4 linked regions of the Homo sapiens genome follow. The protein of the gene in region 1 interacts with the protein of each later gene in a pairwise test. Each region holds a gene or a part of one and is shown in the gene's direction. Other genes may lie near its edges.

Region 1 (2,671 bases):
ATTAGCAGAGCATTTTCTGCCTGTTTGGAAGGTTTGATGTCCTGTTTCTCATTGAAGACTATTTACATGATCATTAGGACATTGCAGGAGAAGTCTGAGAGGTAAAAATACAGATATTCTGGGAGAGTCGTGGTCCTTCAGTTCTGCTGAAATCAGCATAGTGCCCTTGTCATGAGGAAGAGTTTCTGTTCAGCCAAGAGTGGTGGCACGCTTGGGTGGTAGTTTTGGAAGCAGTCAGTTGTGCTAGGACTTATTTAATATGTTGTGAAGAGAAGAGTGTCTTCTTGAAAGCCTTATGTGTCCATCAGCTACTAAATGTAGAACTTAAATAAGTTGCTCACATCTGTTCTTTTAGTGTTTTGTGGTATTTGAGGTTTTGGCAAAAATTGGGATTTTTTTATCAGGCAGCCAGAGCCTGGGAGGTGGTAGGGTGTCTGAAATGCTGGCCATGTTCAGAGAGGCAGGAGAAGGGGGTTGCTTTCATTTGAATATTAAAAGTGAATTTTTGTAAACTCTGGTTTTTACCTTTTTTTCATCCCCACGTTGAGTTGGAGGAATAGTCTCTTCTCTTCACCTCAATATAGCTTTAGAAAATCTTTATCCTTCCTAATAAGTTTGGATGGTTGTGGGTAACATTGTTCAAACAATCTTTCAGGGATCACGTCAATGGCCTACAACCAAGCTATTTGTCCCCTACTTTGAGTCTTAACTGTGGTTTTTCTTCAATCCCCATGGGAAAGGGCTTCAAGGCACCACCAGTGGTATTTAATATTCATACTTGGGGCCAGGCATGGTGGCTCACGCCTGTAATCCCAGCACTTTGGGAGGCCGAGATGGGTGGATCACCTGAGGTCAGGAGTTTGTGACCAGCCTGACCAACATAGTGAAACCCCATCTCTACTAAAAATACAAAAATTAGCCAGGCGTGGTGGCGCACACCTGTAATCCCAGCTACTCGGGAGGCGGAGGCAGGAGAATCACTTGAACCTGGGAGGCGGAGGTTGCAGTGAGCCGCGATTGCACCACCACACTCCAGCCTGCGCGACAGATCGAGACTCTGTCTCAAAAAAAAAAAAAAAATTCATACTTATGCCATGCTTTTACCTTTAGATACACACGTTACAGTAATCCACGTGGTGAAGTGCATGTCACCGTTAACTAAGGAAGGACTGCGGTAACTTACCCTGCAGGGCTGTAGGTTGCCTGCAGGCGCTCCAGGCCCCCAGCCTGTTGATTCCGATTTCTAGGTCTCATCTTCCTCTGGTCCCTTTTGGCCACTACTTTAAAAGCTTGCCCAAAGGGATCCCCTCCATTCTAGTGGGCATTTGCTGAACTAACCTGCCCCTAAGGCTGGCTTCTAACCACCGGGGAAAGCTGCTTAGCCTCCAGGGCTCCCTCCTTGAGAGGCTCACACACCCCCAAGCTGCTGTGGAGTGAATTTGAGACGGAGCAGAAGCTGCAAAGCTGTGCTTTCCCTGGGGAAGGGGATGTGCTGCGGCCTCCTGGGTGGGCGTGGAGAGGGCGCCATCACAACGAGTCCAGGTTTTTGCTTTTGGAAGGTCTCTGATAATTTAGGGGTGCTGGAAACCAGCACTGTGTTATCCCCAATCCCTCCTGTGCCACCAGTTTTGTGATTTAGGTTGCTTTAGTGGGTGACTAACTTTTGTTCAGTGAAACCAGGGTTTGTTTGGGGTTTTTTTCTTTGCTACTTACATATTTAAAGGTACAAGTTTCTTATTTCAAATCTCTACTGATAGTGCCCTATGGGGAGATGCTGGAACACATTTTGCAAATGTGACTTTTTTTTTTTTTTTTAATTTTTGCTTGAAGCCTGTGTCATGTTAGTTGCTGCTGCCTTCTTTCCTTTTGTGAGGTTCCCAATGTTTCGTCCAGAAAAGTACTTTATTTATGCAAGTCAGGTGACTCTTAGGCCACAAAACCATTTGATGATAAACAGATTATCATTAGGTGCATATCTTATTGATATTTTGTGAAATGTTATGCCTATGTTGCAAAAGTTGAATAGTTTTGTCTTTATATATTGCTGTCTTCAGTGTACAGCATGGTTTTACTTAATTGAATGTTAATGTTTAATATTTTCTTCTTATAGAAGAGATCATGCCCTTTTGTATGACATGTTTTAATAAATGTTATCTGTCAACTTTGTAAAAGTTTTGTTTTTCACTATGAGTAGATGACCACATCTTGTTTGACTCTGGGTTTTGCCACCTGAGAATACAGTTATATGGTGGCGTTTTGGTAAGTAAATGCCAAATAATCTGATCCAATGGGCAGTGAGTGACTGCCAGGCAGGCATTTATAGTAATATTTTAGACCCCCACTGGCCCCTTCGGGTACTTGGGGTGTGCTAGAGGCTCTCTGTGCCCCCTGGGCCCCCTTCCTGCTATGCACTTCTCTCCAGGAAGCTGGCCACGGTGGACCTGTCCTGGCTTCCGGTCAGGATCCAGAGACACTCTGGGTGGAGCCTGGCAGAACAGAGAACAGAGAAGTCAGGGAATTCATTCCCCTGGCTCCTTCCCGCCAGCTGTGGGTTGGCGGTGGCTGGGCTCCTCTGCCAAGGCCCACAGGTCCTGTCAGGCAACTTCTGGGGTTTAGTAGCCACACCTTCCCCTTGTCCCCTCAAGCCAGTCTCAGTCCTGACTCCCTGCTT
Region 2 (8,008 bases), on another chromosome or scaffold:
GATGGGCCTTTAGGTTGTTTTGGGTTTTTGCTTTTGCAAATAAAATCTCAAGGAATATGCTTAAATATGTGTTAGTAGCTGTTTACTGTGTTACTATACAGCTTTTTATTAGTAGTTGTATACTGTTCAAAATTGTTGTCATTCTGTTCCTTTTGACCCTTCACCAAGGTGGAAAGATCACTTCCTCCAACACTGTCAGTTTCAAGGCTGCCCCTCTAATTTTCAGGTGTGCATGTAACTCTTGGCTTGGGTTAGATCTCAGGGAGTTCTGGCTTTCTCACTAAATGAACCTTTAGTATCATAGAAGTCTGAAATGGCACACCTAGCCACAGGAAGGACCTAAGCTCAAGCTCCAGTGGGATTAAACAAGTGCTTCATGTGAAATAACATTTATGACAGGCATGTAGAAAACAAAACAATAAGCTTAAGATAATCACTAACTCCAAGAAAAGCGAACAATTAAATGAGAAAGGACATATGACACTGTGCGTCATGGCTCTAACTAATTGTCCTAACGTAGACAGGCTTTTGGTGTCTATGCCCTTTGCTCCCTGCTGTTATGCCTGTGAGTGCTTTATGTTACATGAAAAAGAGATTTTGCAGATATGATTATTGTTATGGACCCTAAAATGGAAAGATTATCCTGGATTATCTGGTGGGCTCAATGTAATCTTTTGAGCCCTTAAAAGCAGAGAAATATCTCCGTCTGGGATTATTCAGAGAGTTGCTGTGGAGGAAGTCAGAGAGGGTAGTGAGATTCAAAGTGTGTTAAGGGTATCTAGCTGGCTTTAAAGATGGAGGGGGCAAGGTGGCTCCTAGAAGGTGAAATTGACCAGCAGCCTGCAGGGAACAGGGACCTCAGTCCTTCAACTACCTGGAACTGGATTCTGTCAACACTCTGAATGGGCCTGAAAGTGGATTTTCCCCCGGAACCTCCAGATAAGAGCCCAGGTCAGCCAACCCCTTGATTTCGGCTTGTGAAACCAGAAGCAGAGAAACCCACTGAGCTTGCCAGGCCTCTGACTTACAGAACTGTGAGATAATAGATTTGTGTTGTTTTAAGCTGCTAAATTTATGGTAATTTGTTATAGCTGTGATAGAAAACTGATACCTAATATCAATTCATCCAAAAACGTATACAGGTGATTCTGTTTCGTAGGAGGAGAGTACTAAAATAAAACTAAATTCTTATTTTGCATGACAGGAAGTCAAAAGATTATATTTAAACCTTATATAAACCTAAAAATAGCAACATAAGCATCTGTAGAAATATGGCAGTAAATATTAAAAGAAACAGCTAGAAGTGTTATAAGTGATTGCTTTTAGAGAGCAGGAATTGGGAATGATGGGGCTGGGAGTGGGCTGATAATTTTTAAATTTTAACCTTGGAGAGAACCATATGGTGTTTAAATGCATGTTCCTGTGTTACTGCAATGAAAATGAAGAGGTCCCATCACTACCAATGTAAGATGTGCCCATCTCTCTAAGGGCCTGAGCAAGTGGGGTAGGGCCTGCCCCTGCCTGCCAGGGCATGTAGCATCCCCTCCTCTCTAATCACCAGGGTGGAGGAGAGCAACAGCAAGCTCCTGGAGTCAGAGAGGAAGCTGCAGGAGGAGCGACACCGCACCGTGGTGCTGGAGCAACATCTGGAGAAGATACGCCTGGAGCCAGGGAAGGCATCAGCCTCCCAGAGAGCAGCTCCCAGGACCAAAACAGGTAGGGGCCAGGGCAGTAGTCTCAGTGCAGGGGGTGGAGGCAGTGTTGCTGCTAACAGAGGAGCCAGGCAGCTGCACTGTTCAGCCCATCAGTGAGCATGTGGGAAGCAGAGCTTCCATCAGGGTGGAGCTCTGCCTGCCTCCACTGTGGGGTGTTCTTTTCCCCAGGCCTCTCAGTCAGAAGCAGGAGCCCCAGAGCTCCATTGCCTCGTGTGGCCCTGGCCTGGCCACCTGTAAGCCCTCAGCATGAGGTGGCAGTGCTGAATGCCCCCAGCCACCCTAGCCCTCAACCCTCTATCCTAAGCTGACTTCATTCAAAGTGGTCATGGGGCACAGCTGGTCTGCTGGGGAAGCCCAAGCAACAGTGGCTGAAGCAGGGGAGGAGTCCCTTTGTGCCTCCTGCAATGGTCAAGTTGATATAAGCAGGAAGTAGCCTCACCAGAGGTTTGGGGACCCAAGCTCCCTCTGTTTTGTGGCTCCACTGTTCTCAACATGCAGCTTCCATCTTCTGGTCTACAATGACTGCCTGAGCTTTCCCATCAGCAGCAGGAAGGGGAGAAGGGAAGGAGACAAACTTCTCCTTACCTTTTACGGTTGCATATGTCACTTCTGCTCTCATCCCATCAGCCAGACAGTTGGGCATAGCCAGGTGCAGAGGGAAGCTGGGAAATGCTATCCTTAACTGAAAAGTCTATCGCTCGAACACAGTGGTTCTCAAGGTGCAGTATTCAGATGAGCAGCATCAGCATCCTGTGGGGCTGGGGCGAGCTGGAGGATGCCAGAGCCAGAAGCCATTTCTGGGATGGCTGACTCCCAGGGAGGAAGGGTCTCCAATGTGGAGGGGCTGGGCCTGCCTCTGTCTGACCTCCCATCCCACCCATCCCAGCCCCCTCCAGGCTGGAATGCTGGAGGTGCTGCTGCCCCCACTGCACCCTCTTTCAACACCCCAGTAGCCCCCCAACCCCTCCCCAGCCAAGGATGGTCAGACCCTTGGTCTCAGTCCTCAGCCCAGATGAGGTCAGAACGTTTCAGAAGGGTGTGCCAGAAGTAGGGCATAAAGAGGGTGTTGGGGCCACTTGCTTTCTCTTCTCCCACCAGCAGGGCCAGGAGCTTCTGAGAATCCAGGCCGGGAAGGAAGGGTCTCTGGGGCTTAGCCTTGCTGACCCTCTTGGACTCTCAGGAATATGTTCCCTAGGAGTGTGGCTTCTCCAGGCTGGGGCTTACCTCCTGTAGGGCAGCAGGACTTCCAACCAGGGAGAGCTAAGCCACAGCAGGCAAGTCACTTTGTTCCCTGCTGGACAGTGAGGGCAGCTGCCTGAGGGAAAGTGTCCAGGTGGCCTCTGCTGCCTACTGGCTTTTAACATGGGCAAAATCCTGCCCCTCTGGTGAGCAGAGCACCACTTACCCGCCTCCCCCTGGCCCATCCGTAAAATGAGGAGGCTAGATTTATAATTCAGTCCCCCATGGCAGTCTCACTCCAGTAGGGGAGCTAGACATCTGAGCAGAGATGGAGGAACTGGGAGGGGATGTGGCCTGCCGATCCCTGAGGGAAAGACAAGTGTCGGTGCTTGGAAGCTTAGCTGGATGCTTGGAGGAACAGGGAGGAGGCAGGGAGGCTGGAGTGGTCCAATCACACAGGGCCTTGAGAGCCAAATAGAATTCACTGAGGCTGCCAAAGCTCTAGAGGCATAAACTATTATCCTTTTTTTCAGCTAAGGAAACCAGCTCAGAGAGGCTGATAGTTTGCCTGAGGCCTCTCAGCAGAGGGCGAAAGCCAGGTCTTCTGATACCAAGTAATTTACTGTGGGTCACACCACCTCTGAGGGCCTTTTCAGTCCCGAGGTTTTCTGATGCTGTGATTTTGCCCAAGTTCGCCACCACCAGTTGAGCTTTGTCTTTTTTTTTTTTTTTTTTTTGGAGACAGAGTCTCACTCTGTCCCTCAGGCTGGAATGCAGCGGTGCGATCTCAGCTCACTGCAACCTCCACCTCCCTGGTTCAAGCAATTCCCCTGCCTCAGCCTCCCAAGTAGCTAGGATTACAGGGGTTCGCCACCACACCCTGCTAATTTATGTATTTTTAGTAATGATGGTGTTTTACCATGTTGGCCGGGCTGGTCTTGAACTCCTGACCTCAAATTATCCACCCCCCTAGACCTCCCAAAGTGCTGGGATTATAGGCATGAGCCACCGCACCCGGCTGAGGCTCTTTTTGATTCCCTGTGTCACAGGGCTTAGAAAATTCCATCAGGCTGAACAAGCAGTTTCCCATCCAGGGCAGCTCTAGTTGGGGATGTGGAGGTGCTCAATGCGTGGAATAAGCCAAGGGCAGCTTAGCAGTGTCCCCTGGAGCCAGGAAAGGCCCTGAAGAACACTCAGTCCAGCCCCTGTAGAGGGCAGAGCCACTCTGCTGCCTCCCCAGCAATGAGACAGGTTTACACAAGACTAGTCTTGAGGTGCATGCCTCCATGCCTGGCTAATTTTTATGTATTTTTAGTAGAGACAGGGTTTCACCGTGTTGGCCAGACTGGTCTTGAACTCCTGACCTCAAGCAATCTGCCCCCACTTGGCCTCCCAAAGTTCTGGGACCACCCCACCGTGGGCCACTTTGTCTCCTTTTTGTGAACATTCTGTACCCTTCAACTCCAGGACCCTGGATCCCCTGCTTCCTAGTATGAAGCTGATGGCCTGGATGGGGACCACTGGTATGAGGGCATCAGGTACAGTGACAGTCTAGACTCGGGCTCAGCCTGCAGGCCAGACCTCAGGCTCAGCTGGTTTCTCTTTTTGAAAACAAATTACCAGGCTGGGCATGGTGGTTTACGCCTGTAATCCTGGCACTTTGGGAGGCCTAGCCAACATGATAAAACCCTGTCTCTGCAAAAAATACAATAATTAGCTGGGCATGGTGACAGGCACCTGTTGTCCCAGCTACTCGGGAGGCACAAGAATCGCTTGAACCCTGGAGGCGCAGATTGCTGTGAGCTGAGATCACGCTACTGCACTCCAGTCTGGGTGACAGAGCAAGACTCTGTCTCAAAAAAAAAAAAAAGAAAAAAAAAAGAAAACAAATTACCAGAAACTTGTAAAGTATAAAGATGGAGACAGGGTGGTGAGGAACCACCCTGGTACAAAGCGAGCAGAGTCAGGGCTGTAGCAGAGGCCAAAGCCAGGGGCAGAGGCATGCAGAGGAGGCATCAGGGAGGGCTTCGGAGGGAGGCAGAGCTCAGAGTTGCCCTGCACCCCGAAGGCGGTGTAGCGTTTCACCATGTGGAAGAGCAGGCAGTGGGCAATGGCGGGAGGAGAAGCAGGGTGCTAGCACAGGGCTGTGGCCTCCTCACAGAAAGTGGTTGCTGCTGCCCCACAGGTCTGCCCACCTCTAACAACAGGCACAACCCAACCGGGAGCGAGAAGAAGGACCCATCCTTTGCCCAGCTCTCCGATGTGCCCGTGGAATCCCAAATGGAAGAGCTGACAACCAGGTGCTCCCCTGCCCCGCCTTCCTGAAAGGGTAGGGTTGTCTGAGCAGAGGTGCCTCCATGGGCAGAGGGACTGTGTCCCTCCCCTTGCACTTTTGACTCATTTGCCCAGAAGGCTTGTCCTGTTTGGTCCTGGGTTCTAGGCCTGCAATTCAGGGACTGGCCTTCAGAGGACAGAGGGCCCGGCCCAAACCCCAATGACCCATAGTCCAAGAGAAATTTTATCAAGCATGGATCACTGAACCAGTTTCTCACTACGTTAAACCTTTTAAGACCCCACGCAGCCATGGGAAGGGAAAGACGGGAACCTCTACAAATTGGAACTCAATTTGTAAGGGGCCTTGAGGTAGCTTACATTGCAGGGAGCCAGGCCCATAGAGAGGAATCCATGGTACCCACAAGAGTCAGTGAGAGGAGGGGATGGGTCAGAGGGAAGCCTGAGCCTGAAGAGCAGCCATGCTGGCAACCACATTCCCAGGGCCCTCTGTCACCCACGCACACCTGTGTGCAGCTCCAGCCACACTGAGCACTGTCTCCTGTGGTCCAGGCTGGCCATCCAGGTGGAGGAGAATGAAATGCTAAAGGCTGCCCTGGGCAGTGCCCTGCGGGGAAAGGAGGAGGACTTCCGGATGTACCATGAGATCCTGGGCCAGGTGAAAAGTGTCTTCCTGCAGGCCCTGCGGCAGCAGAAGACAGGCAAGCAATAGGATGACAGCCCAGTGTCGGCCTGGCCGGGTGGGCAGCCTCAGGTCTTGAGAGGATAAGACTCTGTCTGAGGACTCCATCTGCTCCGGGAAGCCAGCCCAGGGCAGCCAGCTCAACCACTTCTACCAGAAGAGGCTCCTTAAGGATGACCAAAACCAATGTCTCAGGCCAGGAAGGCAGAAGAGAAGCCCTGGTGGGACACTGCAGGAGACCCTGGGCTGGCTGGGTTACAGCAGCAGGGAGGCCCAGCAGCCCACTGGCAGAGGCGAGAGCTCTGGGATGGCAAGGCGGCTGTGAATGGACAGATGCAGTCCCTCGGGCAGGTGTTCATCGCCCTCATCCTAGGTACTAGCCCTGGATGTCCCCATGGCTTCACACACAGAAGAGCCCTTGGTTACCCTAAGTGGGCATATCCCCCATGCCACTCAGCCCTGCCCTATCCCCTCACCCCCATCCCGGCTCCATCTGTAGCCGTCCACACCCTACACAGACTTGGGGCACTATGCTCTCAACCAGTTTGTCAGCCCACTCCTCAGGACACTTCCTCAGGTGCAGACCCTTGGACTTGTAATAATAATAAGTATTTTCATAATCACTGCAGCTCCCAGTGAGTGAGCATCTACTGTGGCAACCTGACCCCATTCAGTCCTCTAATGACCCAGGGGTTTGTTGTCTTATTTGACAGATGAAGAAACTGAGGTTCACAGAAAGAAGCTGAGCTAATATTTAACTGCAGTCTGCCTGACCCCAAAACCAGGGTCTTGCCGTTCAGAGATTACCCAGGGTAGGCGCACCCACCCACCACTGAACAACCCCACCCCTAGGCAGCAGCTCCAAGAGGCATCTTTGTTTGCTCACCAAGACTGCTGATGGATGCTGGTGGCAGAGGGCCGAGGTGGGGCTCAGCTGGAGCTTCAGGCAGAAGGGTTTTGAGGTAGTGGCTCCAGTCAAAGGTACAGTGCACCTCCCTCGCCATGGTGAACTTGGAGGGATGCTGCAGGGGCACCCTAAGATCCGCAGGCCTCTATGACTGTCAGTGTTGCCCTTTCTCAGCTGTAACTATGCACTTATAGCTACAGGAAGGAGTGGCCCCAAGGAGGGTCACTCATAGCCACACACCCCAACTCCGACACCCTGGCCACACAGGTGCACCCACAGCCCCACACAAAGATGCAGATGCACACACATACCTCAATTCAGGAGCATGCAACTGTACGTGCACACAGGCACCTCCATGTGTGCACACTCATGGACACACAGGTGCAGATGAGCACACACATGTGGATGTGGACACACATTCCCACACGTGAAGACATAGCCACTTGTGTGTTGCTTGTGCAGTGATGCACAAATGCAGGTGCACATACTGTGAAAACACCCCCTTCCCCAGGAAAAGCCACTGGGGCTCCTGCGAGCATCTTGTCAGCTCCTTCCTTGGAAAAGCCACTGCGGCTCCTGGGACCCTGTCTTCTCAGCCCCTTCCTTGGGGATGGGGCTATGGAGGGACCCTAGCTGGCCCCCACTCCTCAGGGAGCCCCTGACCCTGCATGGGGTCACACGGATCTAGAGATCCCACAGCAAGTTAGAGCAAAGGCCACCGGGATGAACTGATGATTCTGGTGGGGTCCTAAGGGTCTCTGGGAAGGAAGAGTTTTTCTCTGGTTCCTTGTGAAGGAAAACGGCCAGGCAGAGAGCCAGGAGAGAGAGGGTCTGTGCTTGGAGGGGACAGTGTGTGACAGCGAGGGGTGGGCTGGATGTAGAGTCTGAACACAGAGGAGTCAGCACCTTCTCCTGCAGGCCCTGAGGAGCTCCAGAGGGTGATCTGAGTATGAGGGGTACAGGCTCTGGCCTCAGTGCAGTCCCAGGGAGTGAGAAGCAGGCATAGGATCAGCCATCCTTCCTCAAGATCACCTCAGGGAAGTGCAGAGATGGTGTGACCCACACTCCAGCCACTTCAGGGTGGTTCTGCTGCCCTTCCTGGGCTATGCCTGAGAAAGGAAGGAGCATTAGGTCATGGAGTCTGGACAGGTGGGGCTGCCTGGGGCATACTTCTCTCCCCACTTACCAGCTGTGTGGCCTTGGGCAAGTTATTTAACCTCTCTGATCCTCCAC
Region 3 (8,547 bases), on another chromosome or scaffold:
AATAAAGCAACAAAAATACAGCAGTAAGGACATAGCAGTCAAATATATTTTTAAAAATCAATTTATTATCAGCCTTATAGTATATTTCCCCATAAGAAATGTTTATTTCTCTTCTCTGAACAGAGTATTTCTAAATATCCTCAGTTGTACATATTAATTAGGTTGAGGATAAACTGAATGATAGTTAATGAAATCAGATCTGAGGATATGAATTTTAAATTGATTTTTAAGTTTACTCTTTATCACTTATCTGGTGTCAAATTGATTACCTGTAAGTTCTCACATTGCATCACAAAAACACCATCAGGGATTTTTGGCAATTTTTTTTTTTTGAGACGGAGTCTCGCTCTGTCACCCAGGCTGCAGTGCAGTGGCGCGATCTTGGCTCACTGCAAGATCCGCCTCCTGGGTTCACACCGTTCTCCTGCCTCAGCCTCCCAAGTAGCTGGGACTACAGGTGCCTGCCACCACGCCTGGCTAATTTTTTGTATTTTTTTTTTAGTAGAGATTGGGTTTCACCGTGTTAGCCAGGATGGTCTCGATCTCCTGACCTCGTGATCCGCCCACCTCAGCCTCCCAAAGTGCTGGGATTACAGGCATGAGCCACCGTGCCCAGCCTGATTTTTGGCAATTTTTAATGTTAAACATGGCACTTTACCCAGCTGAAAAAACACATTTTCCTAATCACCCTTGGAGCTAGAATTGGTCTTGTAACACACTTTAGACCAAAAATACATAAGTAAAAGTCACAGGGTGCAGTTCTGAAAGACATGGGGTTGGCTGAGCATACATTTGATTTTGTCTTTTGTTTTTTCTCTTTCTGCCTGGAATCTGGATGTGATTCTAGTGATGAAGCAGTCTTCTTGCAATCATGAGGCAAAAAAAAAAAAAAAAAATGAAAGCTGCTTATTAAGATGGCCAATGGAAAATAAAGGGGGAGCCTAGAGGCCTGGTGGCATTGTGTGGCCTTGGATGGGCTCCGTATTCCTAGAAAAATTGACTCATAAAAAAAACCACCTATTTGGTTCAGCCACTGTAATCAGCTTTCTGTTGTACAGTCAATGCCAATCTTAAGTGAGATAGTAACATAATATGTTAAATTGGTTAAAAAAAATGTGAACACAACCTCAAAAGAATAGTTTCCAGCATAGCACTTCTGGTCTCTCTCTCTCTTTCCATACACACACACACACACACACACACACACACACACACGTTTGTATGGTTTCTGGCTCATAACTGCCATAGCCCTTGTTACACTCGTTTGTTATAACATTGGATGCATTAGGCTTCAGAGAACAAAATCTCTCTGACCTCCTGCCCGCAGGACCCTAATCTTCCCCTACCTCTCTGATTGTGGGTCATAAGACCATCATTCCAGAGAGGGTCCCACCTCATAGCCTGGTGGAAAAAATATCGATGTCATGAAGCTTCCATGAAAACCCAAGAGGACTGGGTTTGTAGAGCTTCTGGAGAGCCGAACACATGGAAGTTCCTGGAGGGCTGTGTGCCCTGCAAGGGCACAGAGGCTCTGCACCCCTCTCCCCATGCCTTGCCCTACACATCTCTTTATTTGTATCCTCTGTAATATCCTTCATTATAAACTGGCAAACATAAGTAAGGGTTTCCCTGAGTTCCGTGAGCTGTTCTAGCAAATCAAACCCAAAGAGGGAGTCATGGAAACCCCAACTTGAAGGAAGTCAATCAGTTCTGGAGGCCCGGGCTATGACTCACGTCGGGGACTGGGGAGTCGTGAACTGACTTGAAGGAAGTCAATCAGTTCTGGAGGCCCAGGCTGTGACTCCTGTCGGGGATTGGGGAGTCGGGAACTGAGCCCTCATCCTGTGGGATCCGGCACTATCTCCAGGTAGACAGTGAAGGAGCTGAACTGGAGGACACCCAGTAGAATTGATGGCTTGCTGATGAGGAGAAATCCCCATATATTTTGGGGCTACATAAGTCTTCTGTGTTGTTAGTATGAGAGCAGAGGAAAAATAGGGTTTGAGAGTTTTTCTGAAACAATTTTCTGGTCTCCTAAGGTAGGTGTGGGTTTGAATCCCACTTGTGGCAGTGTGAGAGCAGAAAAAAAAACAGTTTGAGTTTTTCCAAAACAACTGGTGTCAAAACATGGCGAAACCCCATCTCTACTAAAAATACAAAAATTAGCTGGGCATGATGGCAGGCGCCTGTAATCCCAGCTACTCAGGAGGCTGAGGTAGGAGAATGGCTTGAACCCAGGAGGCAGAGGTTGCGGTGAGCCAAGATCATGCCATTGCACTCCAGCCTGGGCGACAACGAAACTCGGTCTCAAAAAAAGGATAAAAAATAAAAAAAGTAAACTGTATACTCATGAACGATACGTAAATTGTGTGTATATATATTATATATATCATATACGATTTGTTGCAGGGACTGTGCCTTACACCATTGTGGCACATAGTTAACAGTTCCTGTAAGGCTGTTGTCTTTGCATCTGATGCTGGAACAGGGCAGACAGTTGGGAAGGGAAGATGGATGTAAAGTGAGGAGAGACAAGTTGAGGTCTGTGACCTCAAGCTGGAGCCCAGGATGCGCTGAAACCCCTTTGTTGCCCTATAGGAGAAGCTGGAGCCTTTAGTCTTGGAGCTGAAGGAGCCAGAGGAAGAGGGGGCAGCTGCTGCCTCATGTCGCCCAGGTGAACCAGCAGACACAATGGCACCTGCCCAGACCTTCTGTAGTCCTCACCATCTCTGGACACACTCTGTAATTCCTACATTTATTCTGCGTATTGCCTACTGTCTCCATTCACATGTATGGTCCAGAAAGACATGGATTTGTTAGGCACTTGCTTGTTCACTGATGTAGCCCCGACACTTAGTGCTTAGCACACAAGCACTCAATAAACATTGTGCTGTTGAAGGAAAAAGAGTGACAGAGACACAGAAGGGACGTGCTAGAGAGGATGTCAGCTGCTAAATCTAAGTGAAGGGCACGGAGGTATTCATTGTATTATTCTTTCAACCTTTATGAATGTATCAACATTTGCAAAATAAAAAAGTTGTGGAGGAGGAAGAAAAACAAAAACCAGGATGCACTGAGGTCTGAGGTGAAGGTCCTAGGAGCATCAGTTCTCTGTTGGGATCAAGGTTGCTGGGACAGAGCTTGATCCCTGTCAACTGCTAAAACAATCCAGGACAATCCAATAGTAGAGCTGAATTTTGATTACCTTGGTCCTGAGCTTCACAGCCCTTTGGCAGAGGAAATCCTGTGACACTGAGGTGTAACCACAAGACTGGCCCAAACTGACCCTATTCTGTTGGTAACAGGAGGTATAGCAGAGCCAAAACTGAAAGTCATGTAACCCGGACATGCACAAAGGAGGAAAATCATAACTCGGAACCAACGTTTCCTCCCTGTGGAGCCAAGAAGACAGGGACATGACCGGAGCTTGAGGGGCGGAACGCTTTCAGAAGGGAAGGGTCCATTATCCTGGAAGATCTGGTGCTGAAACCTGCCATTCCACACCTTACCATAAATGGCCAAGTTTAAAGCCCTCCTATTGAAACCTGCCCGCCAGCACTTCTGTGTGCCAACCTGTCCTCCCTAACCCGTCGACTTTGACCTAAGCCCACATGTGGGAGCCACATTTGAGCCATGCCTCCGGTCTCCTTGGCCGTCGACCTTGAAATAATAAAGCCTTCTCTTTTCTCAAAAACTGGTGCCACCGTTTTGGCTTCTAGTGCGCCAGGCAACGGGCCCATTGCTCGAAACGCGCGTGGTGGATGGTAGCTCCGTGAAGTGCGAACCCCTGCCCGCAAGGGCTGCTAAGTTCGCTGAAGCGTAGCACAGACTTCGCGTCTGCCTGGTGCGCGGCAAGTACGGAATTATCGCCACATCCTCCCGGCCTCCGCTCCCAACAGCACGGGCCGGGCACTCGCTTCAAGCCTACCCCCTAACCTTAAGCCTTCCCCGCCGCCCCCACGCAGCCCCCAGCCCCGCCCTGTGGGGAAGCCTCTTGAGAGTCTGGGCCCGCCCACGCGCCCAATGGACGACGCGGACCTGACCTTCGGGAGTGGGGCCAGCAGAAGGTGGACTAGGCGTCAGCCTTCCCGTCCCCTGACACCGCTCCAAACCAGCCCCACCCTCCCTGCCGCGGCTGTCAGGTCCTGGGCTGTGCCCGAAGCCTCCACACGGGTGTGGCCCGCGCCCTCGTGAAGGCCCGCCCCTCTCCCCCAGGTGCGCGGTGTAAACACACCAAAAAGCAAACACCAGGGCCGAGTGGGCGACGGAGACGGTCGCTGTTCAGTGACGCCCCCTGTCGGGAGCACGCCGGGCCGGACACAGCGAAGAGCGGCTGCGCCTCGGACCTCGCAGCACTCAGCCTCCTAAGTGGGAGGAATAACCTCACGCAAGTCATCAAACAAGAGGACTTCAGTGTTGCAACGAAGGAAGAGAAAGGGCCCCTGAGAAGGCGACATTCGCACTGCAGCGGCGCAGGGACCAGCCAGGCGGCTGAGGGCAAGGTCGTTCCCAGCAGCGGGAACCGCAAGGGCAAAAGGCTCGGAGGGGGGAACGAGCTCGAGTTCCAGGACGGCCGAAGCCAGCGCAAGTCGAGGAGGGACTGCGGGGCCGGCAGGGGTGTCCTCCACAGGGCGACGGCGGCAGGAGCTCGGGAACCGGGACTGCGAGCGGGTAAGGCTCGGCGATGGGCTGTAACCTCCGCGCCCGGAAGTGCGGCCGGGGAGCCGGCCGGGCCCATTGCCCAGAGGTGTTCGGCCCCTCTAGGGATCGCGGAGGTCTGGCTCTCGGTGGCTCCTGAGAGCTCCCTGCAGTCGGTCACCGAGAAAGGCTTCGGGCGGGCAGGCGGGCCAAATGACGTAAACATGCTTGCCCTCCAGGATTGGCGAACTCGGCTGTGGGGGCGGGAACTGAGGGGCAGGAGCCCCCAGGGATTGGCGGCTGCGCAGACGGGGCGGGGCAGCCCTTTGTCTGAAGGTGCTGCGGGATGCCGTTCCTTCGCGCGTGAGGCTGCGGCTCTGACGGTGAGTGGGGGGCGCGTGTCGTCGCCGGCCAGGACCCTCTCCCATCACGGACACCGGAGCCGGTGCGTCCTCCACACGAATCGTGGACTCTTCCCCGCGAGCACGCACTGCCTCCTGCGTTTACGCTGGTCCCCTCCCCTCACGGACGCGCGGCGGCCTCCTCCCCAGGGCCAAGGCCGCGCCCTCTCCCCCGTTCGGGGTTCCCACCCTTCCCCTCGCCCGGCCTTGGACCCCCTCAGGCCCTCCCGCACCCCCGTCCGCCTCGGACGGCCTCGGTCCCTTCCCCGCCCCTACCCCCTTGGGCCCCGTCAGACCGGCGTCCCTCCCACCTTGGATCTCCTCAGATCTCCGGCCTTCCTCCCCCTCGTGCCCTCCCGCGCGCTTTCTACCGGGCGCCGTGCCTAGGGCCAGGATGGCCGGAGTCCTAGGGGCGCAGTCCGGACCCCCGGGCCGCTCTTCTTGCCGCGCTCCTCGGGGTCTCGCGTCCCCTGGGATGGGCCCGGAAAGGGGTGGGGAGCTTCCCCAAAATATAAAAATGGAGGTTTTTTCTGTTTGATGCACATCCTGAGGAGCCCCATGAAGACCCCGGCGGCGCACCGGGAGCGCCACTTTACTTAGCTATAAAAAGTCTTCCCGCGTCAAGACGAAAACGAGCTGCTTTCGTTTCAGCAGTTGGTCGAGTGTGCTACTTGCCGGGTGTCTTATCCTCTCCCCATTTTGCTGTCGATGCTGTCTTTTCTGTTACTGTGTTAGAGCCCTATTTTAATGAATGAGCCCAACTCTTTGCAACACAGCAAATATTTTCCTTGTTGTTTATTGGCTTAATTTTAAAATTGAAAATAATATGCAATACTTCTTCTAATGCAGGCATGTCAGAAATATATAAAAGTCATCCCCCCCGACACTCTGCCAGTGTATGAAGAGGCAGGAGCTGTGAACAGTTTCAGAATTTTTGAATGCCGTTAGAGCTTTAGGCACGCACGCACACCCTTTTTTCTGTCATCAAAGGGAAGCTGGTGTCGTTTGACTAACACCAGGGGCGGCAGGGGGCGCTCCACTCGTCCTCCGCCGGGTGGGTACTCGCAGATTTTTCAGTTCGTAACTTGTCTTCTGGACATAGGTTTCTCTGTCCGGTGGTCTCTACGAAGTGGGTAAGGGTGGGAGATTGCCATTGACATTCCCGCCCTGGACGGGACTCTGGTCCTGTGGGCTTTGACAGGTCACTGCATTCCTGCCAGGTCGACGTTTTGCGTTTATTGGTGAGATTGAAATCCCTTCATTTGTGTTTTCGCCATTTGTATTTCTTTGTGATTTGCCAGCTCATATTTTTTTCCATGTATGTTGAAAACATGCTTCTCAATTTGTCTTTTGACTCTGATTATGGTGTTTGATTCTGGTTTGGGCTTTTTCAAAATAGAAAATTTAAAATTTTTAGGAGTCAAATATTTTGCCTTAAGGCATTTTGGGCTTTGTGCTGTGTTTTAAAGGGCTTTCCCCACTCCAAGATTATTTTTAAAATAAACTCTTGTTTTTCTGTGGTACTTGTAAAATGTTGGATACGTCTGGAATTTATTTTATTGTGGGGTGAGTTTGGAATACAGCTTTTGGAATTCCTTTTTTCCTCTAAATCATAGCCATTTCTAACACCATTGATCTTCCCATTGATTTGAAAAACCGCTTTTGTCATATACTAAATTGTTGCATGCCTTTAGGTCCATTTTTGGAGTTTGGTAGCTTTGATGTGCATATGATTTTGATTTATAAGCTGCAGATCTGTGGAGCTCTGCTTTTTGCTTTTGGTATTTTGCTTAGAACAGCCCTTCCCACATGAAATAATAAAAATATACCTGTATTTTTATTAAAGTTCTTTTTTATTGAATATAATAATTATACACATTTATGGGATACATGTGATATTTTGATACAAGGATAGCATACAATGTATAATGATCAAATCAGGGTAATTAGGATGTCTGTCACCTCAAACATCATTTTTTGTGTTGGAAACATTTCACATCTCTTCTTCTGGTTGTTTTGAAATATACAATAAATTATTAACTGTAGTCATCTTACCGTGGTATCAAACACTGGAACTTATTCATTATATCTGACTGTATGTTTGTAGTCATTAACCCACTTCTATTCATCTCATACCTCCCCCCAACCCCACCCTTCCCATCCTCTGGTAATCATCATTCTACCCTCTACCTCCATGGGACCAACTTTTTTAACTCACACATACGAGTGAAAACATGCAATATTTGTCTTTCTGTACCTGGCTTATTTCAATTAACATAATGACCTCCAGTTCCATCCCTGTTGCTGCAAATGACATAATTTCCTTATTTTTATAGTTGAATCATATTCCATTGTGTACATATACCACATTTTCTGTATCCATTTATTTGATGTACATTTCGGTTGATTCCATATCTTAGCTATTGTGAATAGTGCTGCAGTCAACATGTATGTTCAGATATCTTTTTGATATACTGACTTCCTTTCTTTTGGGTATATAACAAGCAGTGGAATTGCTGGGTCATATGGTGGATCTATTTTTAGTTTTTTTCATATGCTTGTTGGCCATACATATTGTCTTTTTTTGATAAATTACTCAGATCATTTACCTGTTTTTAAATCGGATTAGTTGTCTCTTTCTATTGAATTGTTTGACTCCCTTCTGCATTCTGGTTATTAATCCCTTATCGGATGGATAGCTTGTAAATATTTTCTTCCATTCTGTATGTTGTTTCTTCACTCTGCTGATTGTTTCCTTTCCTGTACAGAAGCTTTTTAGTTGATGTAATTCCATTTGTCTAGTTTGCTTTTGTTCCTGTGCTTTTGAGGTCTTACCCAAAAAATGTTTTCCCACATGAGTGTCCTCAAGTGTTTCCTTGATGTTTTACAGTTTTCTTTATAGGGACTCTGCATTTCTAAGGTTTAATCTTGTTTCTTGTTGCTATTTGTTGAATAGATTTTTTTCCATTCATATTTTCTGATTAGGTGTTACTGGTATATAAGAAAGCTATCAGTTTGGTTGTTTTTTTGTTTTGTTTTGTTTTGTTTTGTTTTGTTTGTTTGTTTATTTGCTTTTTTTCTTTTGAGATGGAGTCTCACTCTGTTGCCCAGGCTGGAGTGCAATGGCGCGATCTTGGCTCACTGCAAACTCCACCTCCCAGGTTCAAGCAATTCTCATGCCTCAGCCTTGGGAGGAGCTGGAATTACAGGCACGTGCCACCACACCCAGCTAATTTTTGTATTTTTAGAAGAGACGGGGTTTCACCATGTCACCCAGGCTGGTCTTGAACTCCTGACTGTTGGGATCAGGCCCCCCCAAAATCTGGCTATAAACTGGCCCCAAAACCGGCCATAAACAAAATCTCTGTAGCACCGTGAAATGTTCATGATGGCCATAATGCCCACGCTGGAAGGTTGTGGTTGTGGGTTTACCGGAATGAGGGCAAGGAACACCTGGCCGGCCCAGGGTGGAAAACCCCTTAAAGGCATTCTTAAGCCACAAACAATA
Region 4 (4,694 bases), on another chromosome or scaffold:
CAGTTACCTGCTTTGTACATGAGGAGTCAGTGAACCGTTATGTAAAGTGTGTTATGTGACACACCACAGCTCCCAAAGAATGAATTTACCACTGACATCAAGGTTTACTGTGAAATGCAGCAGATAAATATTTTACAATAGGAAATTTAATGAAATTCATACTTTTAAGCAATCATTTCAGTAAAAGAAATTGTTATAGATGATGTGTATGTATGACGATAGATTCAGAACTGGTTAGAGTTGAATTTCAGCATTACATTTTAAAGGTATTTGCCAAACCCTAAAGCTCATTTTATTTCAAGTGAAAACATCATCATGAAAAAAGTCACGTCACATTGACTAACAAGGTTGGTAACAAATGTAATGATCAACTTTATCATTTAACATTTCACAAGACTTTTTATTGGTTTCTAAAAAGCAGTTAATATTTTAAGGTACGGTATATAAACAAAATAGCCATATCTGATTTTTGGCAACATGAAAATGCCAATTTCCTTTCAAACCAATTCCCGGACTACAGCTACAAATGTGGTCAACAACGTCATCCTGGAGTAAAATTCAGCTCCTGACACACACTTCTATGGCAATTATAACATAGTTAACACTTGGCCTGTACCTATATGAACACTGATCCATTGGGGGCCACTGAATAAAAATTTCTTCAATCTCATTTGCTATTTTAGTTGAGGATTCTAATTTACAGAAGAGCTGGGCCTTTCCTTCTCCCATTCCTTTTATAACTTCCTATCCAGTTTCCTGCAGTTTGTTTTTCCTCCTATTTGAATTGTTCTTATAATCTTTAAACGTTTCTGTTTCCATTCACTTTATGCGTGCATGCTTCTCTATGACTTATCAAACGTAGCACTGGGTGTAAAGTGGTATTTTTCCAAGGTCAAAAAAAGTATACGAATTCATTTATTAGGATTAGGCTTAAACTGCTTTCATTGAGATTATTCAAAGGATTTTTGCCCTCATTAAAATTATATCAAGTAAATAAAAATATGACATCCATAAGTGTGTTTGTTCACCAATAAGGATTTAGGTTTATCCAACTTTTTGCTAATACATATTCAAGCATTGTCTTAAGTTAAAAATATGATTATCATTCCCAGTAGATGTGTAACAGAACACAATAGGGCTGTCAGTTTTTTAAGGATATTCAAAATTATGGAAAACAGGTTCAATTACAAAAAGCCAGCTAACAGCACAAAGGTCACCAAGGTATGATACAATTTTGAGTGGGACCTATGCAGTGGTACTTAGCCATTAAAAATGCCAACAAAAGGAATGGAGGATGAGTCACAGTAAGTATTCCCTTAACTGTGAAACTTAAATATGCATGTACACTGATTACATTCTATTTCAGGTGCTTGTATAACTGTAAAGATATTGTATTACGAAGAAACACAGCTGGAAGTCTGGGCTTCTGCATTGTAGGAGGTTATGAAGAATACAATGGAAACAAACCTTTTTTCATCAAATCCATTGTTGAAGGAACACCAGCATACAATGATGGAAGAATTAGGTAATAATAATGACTAATCAAAAATACTTGTATTAAATGTTGTTTCATAAATGCCAAAGCTTGGCCCCATTTGAGATAAGGCATGTATTTATTATACTTTGTGGGGATTAAAAGTATGTACGTAGCATTCAACTTCTGAGAAATCCAAAATAATTACACATATTCTTGGTCCCATACTACAACTCCCCATACTTTTAGCATTCCTTCTAACACAAGCTGAATGGATAGTGAGTTTGGAGAATGTAAATAAGAGGCAAGAAATATCTCAATTAGAAGTTAACATAATTAAAATGGTCAGATGTAGCAAAATCTAGCACCACTAAGATAAACTTGCATTAACTTCAGCAACGAATTAAAATACTAATCATATCTTGTTTTGTTTTTTTTTTTAGATGTGGTGATATTCTTCTTGCTGTCAATGGTAGAAGTACATCAGGAATGATACATGCTTGCTTGGCAAGACTGCTGAAAGAACTTAAAGGAAGAATTACTCTAACTATTGTTTCTTGGCCTGGCACTTTTTTATAGAATCAATGATGGGTCAGAGGAAAACAGAAAAATCACAAATAGGCTAAGAAGTTGAAACACTATATTTATCTTGTCAGTTTTTATATTTAAAGAAAGAATACATTGTAAAAATGTCAGGAAAAGTATGATCATCTAATGAAAGCCAGTTACACCTCAGAAAATATGATTCCAAAAAAATTAAAACTACTAGTTTTTTTTCAGTGTGGAGGATTTCTCATTACTCTACAACATTGTTTATATTTTTTCTATTCAATAAAAAGCCCTAAAACAACTAAAATGATTTGTATACCCCACTGAATTCAAGCTGATTTAAATTTAAAATTTGGTATATGCTGAAGTCTGCCAAGGGTACATTATGGCCATTTTTAATTTACAGCTAAAATATTTTTTAAAATGCATTGCTGAGAAACGTTGCTTTCATCAAACAAGAATAAATATTTTTCAGAAGTTATAGTTGTCTTTTAGTATGTGATACTAATTAAGATTACTTTTGTATTATCACTATTTAAAAGATCCTAGTAATTTATTCTTTCAAATACCATGTTATTTGTTACCATCACCGATGAATACCTCCTAGGCTTATCCCTAAAAATGCTCGCTCAGAGAATTAATTATAAACTTGTTTTGTTTTTAGTAAGAAATGGCTAAAGCTCTTTTTTTCCACAATCGTTAGTAACTGTATAAAAACTCATGCTGCTCCACCAGTGGGCCTTGGAAAATGCATCAAGAAGGCCAAACCAGCTTGACCCTGGCTCACAGACATGGTCATGAGGCGATTTAAATTTGTGCCACAATGAAGAGTGTGTGTACACATGCCTCCTAGAAACTACACTATGGGTAATTAATTAATTTATTTCATAGAGGCCACCCAGATGCCTTATAGGTTTTATTAATTTGGATATGAAAGTGTACCCCATTTGGTTTCACCAGGAACCCAAATTTAGAATATTGAAAAGCCATCAAAAAGTTGTGATATCAAAAATGTATGAGTCTCTTAATATACTAAGCAAGAGTGTCACAGCAGTAATGATAAAGACTAGTTTTAATCTCAAGCCTTAGAGGGGCCCTTTGTTGCCTTTTGTGATGCAGCCTCTTAAGAGAGTGGTGTTTGATTAACAAAAAAACTGTGGCCCAAGTGGAACCCTTGACCTTTTCTCAGATAATCTGTGTATGTACACAGCTAACACAGCTCTTTAGATTCCCTGTTAAGTGACTCATTCACATTCCTTTCTTGGATATAAAGTCATTGCTGTCTTTTTATTTTTGAAATAGTACAAGACAAAGATTTTTAACTTAACATGAAAAATTCACTCTTTTATTTTGGAAAAAAAGTTAACTTTTCATACTAACAAACAGAACAAGATTTAAGGTAAATTTCTTAAACATTATCCAGAAAAATAACAAGATTTATAGTATCTACTTCTGGTACTAATATACACAAAAGGCCAAAACCATGCCTATTCTGCAGGTGTAGCTTCGGTGCTCTCCTGTTCAGGGGCAGGCTCACTGCCCGCTTCTTTTCCTTCTTTGCTTCTTTTAGATTTTTTGTGTTTGTGTCTCCTGTGACTATCTCCTTCTTCACTTTCATGGCGACGTCTACTATTACTGGAAAAAAAAAAAAAAAAAAAAGGTGTGTTCTGTTTAAATACACAATCAGTGACAAAAATCCAATCACTCTAAGGAAATTCTCAATATAACACTGGGTTTAAAATAATCTAATGCATTTTCTCATAAATATAATGTGAGGAATAATCAGTTTTATGTGACTTTTATGCAGGGATTGTATTTATTTTATAGGGCCATCTTCACTGATATTATCTCAGATTCCCAGTGCCTATACACAGCTTCTGAAATGCATATTATAATATACAGTAACAAATTAGAAACAGGCATTAACTCAAAACCGGAAATACTGTATAGGGTTGATTTTTGGCAAACAATAGGTATTTTGTTTAATGCTTTTTTAAAAAAATTTGAGACAAGGCCCTGAATTTTTCTTTAATGAAACCAAGCAAGACTGGTTCATAGGCCAAAATTTCCCCTCTTCCAATGCGACAATGTAGTAAGTCAAAATCTCTCACATACTATTGGTTCACTATTTTATTAAAGAGCAAACCTTCGAGAAGACTTATGTCTGGTTTCCTCTTTCTCCCTGTGTCGTCTTTCTCTATGTCGTTCTTCTTTTTCTCGACTTGCTCTGTGACGCTCATAACCTCTTTCTGCATATTCCCTGTATCTGTATCGTTCTTCATCGCTGAAATTGAAATAGAAATGTTTTCTTGACAACTGGACCATTAATTCTGAATGGATTCAAACTGTAAAAGAGATGTGATCTGCAGTCCAAATCCAAAATCCTCACATTAGCATCTTTTATAACATTAGTGAGGAAGAAATATTCGTTGAATTGAGAGGAAAATAATGCTTGTTCTCAAAATAGCACTAGAGCTAAGAATATAAATATATAATAATTACACATGTTAAATGACCAATTTTGTTCTGTGCTTTCATAGCTGTTAAAAAGATTTAATATAACAATGCTTTGGTTTTTTCATTTCTTGAAAAAGTGAGATCTGCAACTGATTTAAATTGTTATCAGCTTTTAAAATTTTTGCTCCTTTTAGAATTAAAATAGTATTTGTAT

Evidence for each region.
Region 2: the proteins of ZBTB43 (region 1) and CCDC13 interact in binary tests that used the Homo sapiens proteins (3 or more experiments, as listed by UniProt).
Region 3: the proteins of ZBTB43 (region 1) and ZNF250 interact in binary tests that used the Homo sapiens proteins (3 or more experiments, as listed by UniProt).
Region 4: the proteins of ZBTB43 (region 1) and LNX1 interact in binary tests that used the Homo sapiens proteins (3 or more experiments, as listed by UniProt).

Annotation. Positions count from the first base shown.
Region 1 is NC_000009.12:126,836,040-126,838,710, forward strand, and holds the end of ZBTB43 (zinc finger and BTB domain-containing protein 43), read left to right. Parts: 3' UTR 1-2,171; downstream 2,172-2,671. UniProt on the Homo sapiens protein: May be involved in transcriptional regulation.
Region 2 is NC_000003.12:42,706,870-42,714,877, reverse strand, and holds part of CCDC13 (coiled-coil domain-containing protein 13), read left to right. Parts: intron 1-1,561; coding exon 1,562-1,716; intron 1,717-5,079; coding exon 5,080-5,194; intron 5,195-5,738; coding exon 5,739-5,898; 3' UTR 5,899-8,008. UniProt on the Homo sapiens protein: Required for primary cilia formation and promotes the localization of the ciliopathy protein BBS4 to both centriolar satellites and cilia.
Region 3 is NC_000008.11:144,897,873-144,906,419, reverse strand, and holds the start of ZNF250 (zinc finger protein 250), read left to right. Parts: upstream 1-4,966; 5' UTR 4,967-5,021; exon of another isoform or gene 5,022-5,083; intron 5,084-6,114; exon of another isoform or gene 6,115-6,280; intron 6,281-8,547. Other genes in the region: uncharacterized protein LOC124902042, read right to left, coding at 4,139-4,738. UniProt on the Homo sapiens protein: May be involved in transcriptional regulation.
Region 4 is NC_000004.12:53,458,266-53,462,959, reverse strand, and holds the end of LNX1 (E3 ubiquitin-protein ligase LNX), read left to right. Parts: intron 1-1,366; coding exon 1,367-1,525; coding exon of another isoform or gene 1,526-1,529; exon of another isoform or gene 1,530-1,917; coding exon 1,918-2,053; 3' UTR 2,054-3,431; coding exon of another isoform or gene 3,432-3,658; 3' UTR 3,659-3,659; downstream 3,660-4,694. Other genes in the region: FIP1L1 (pre-mRNA 3'-end-processing factor FIP1), read right to left, coding at 3,511-3,658, 4,170-4,307.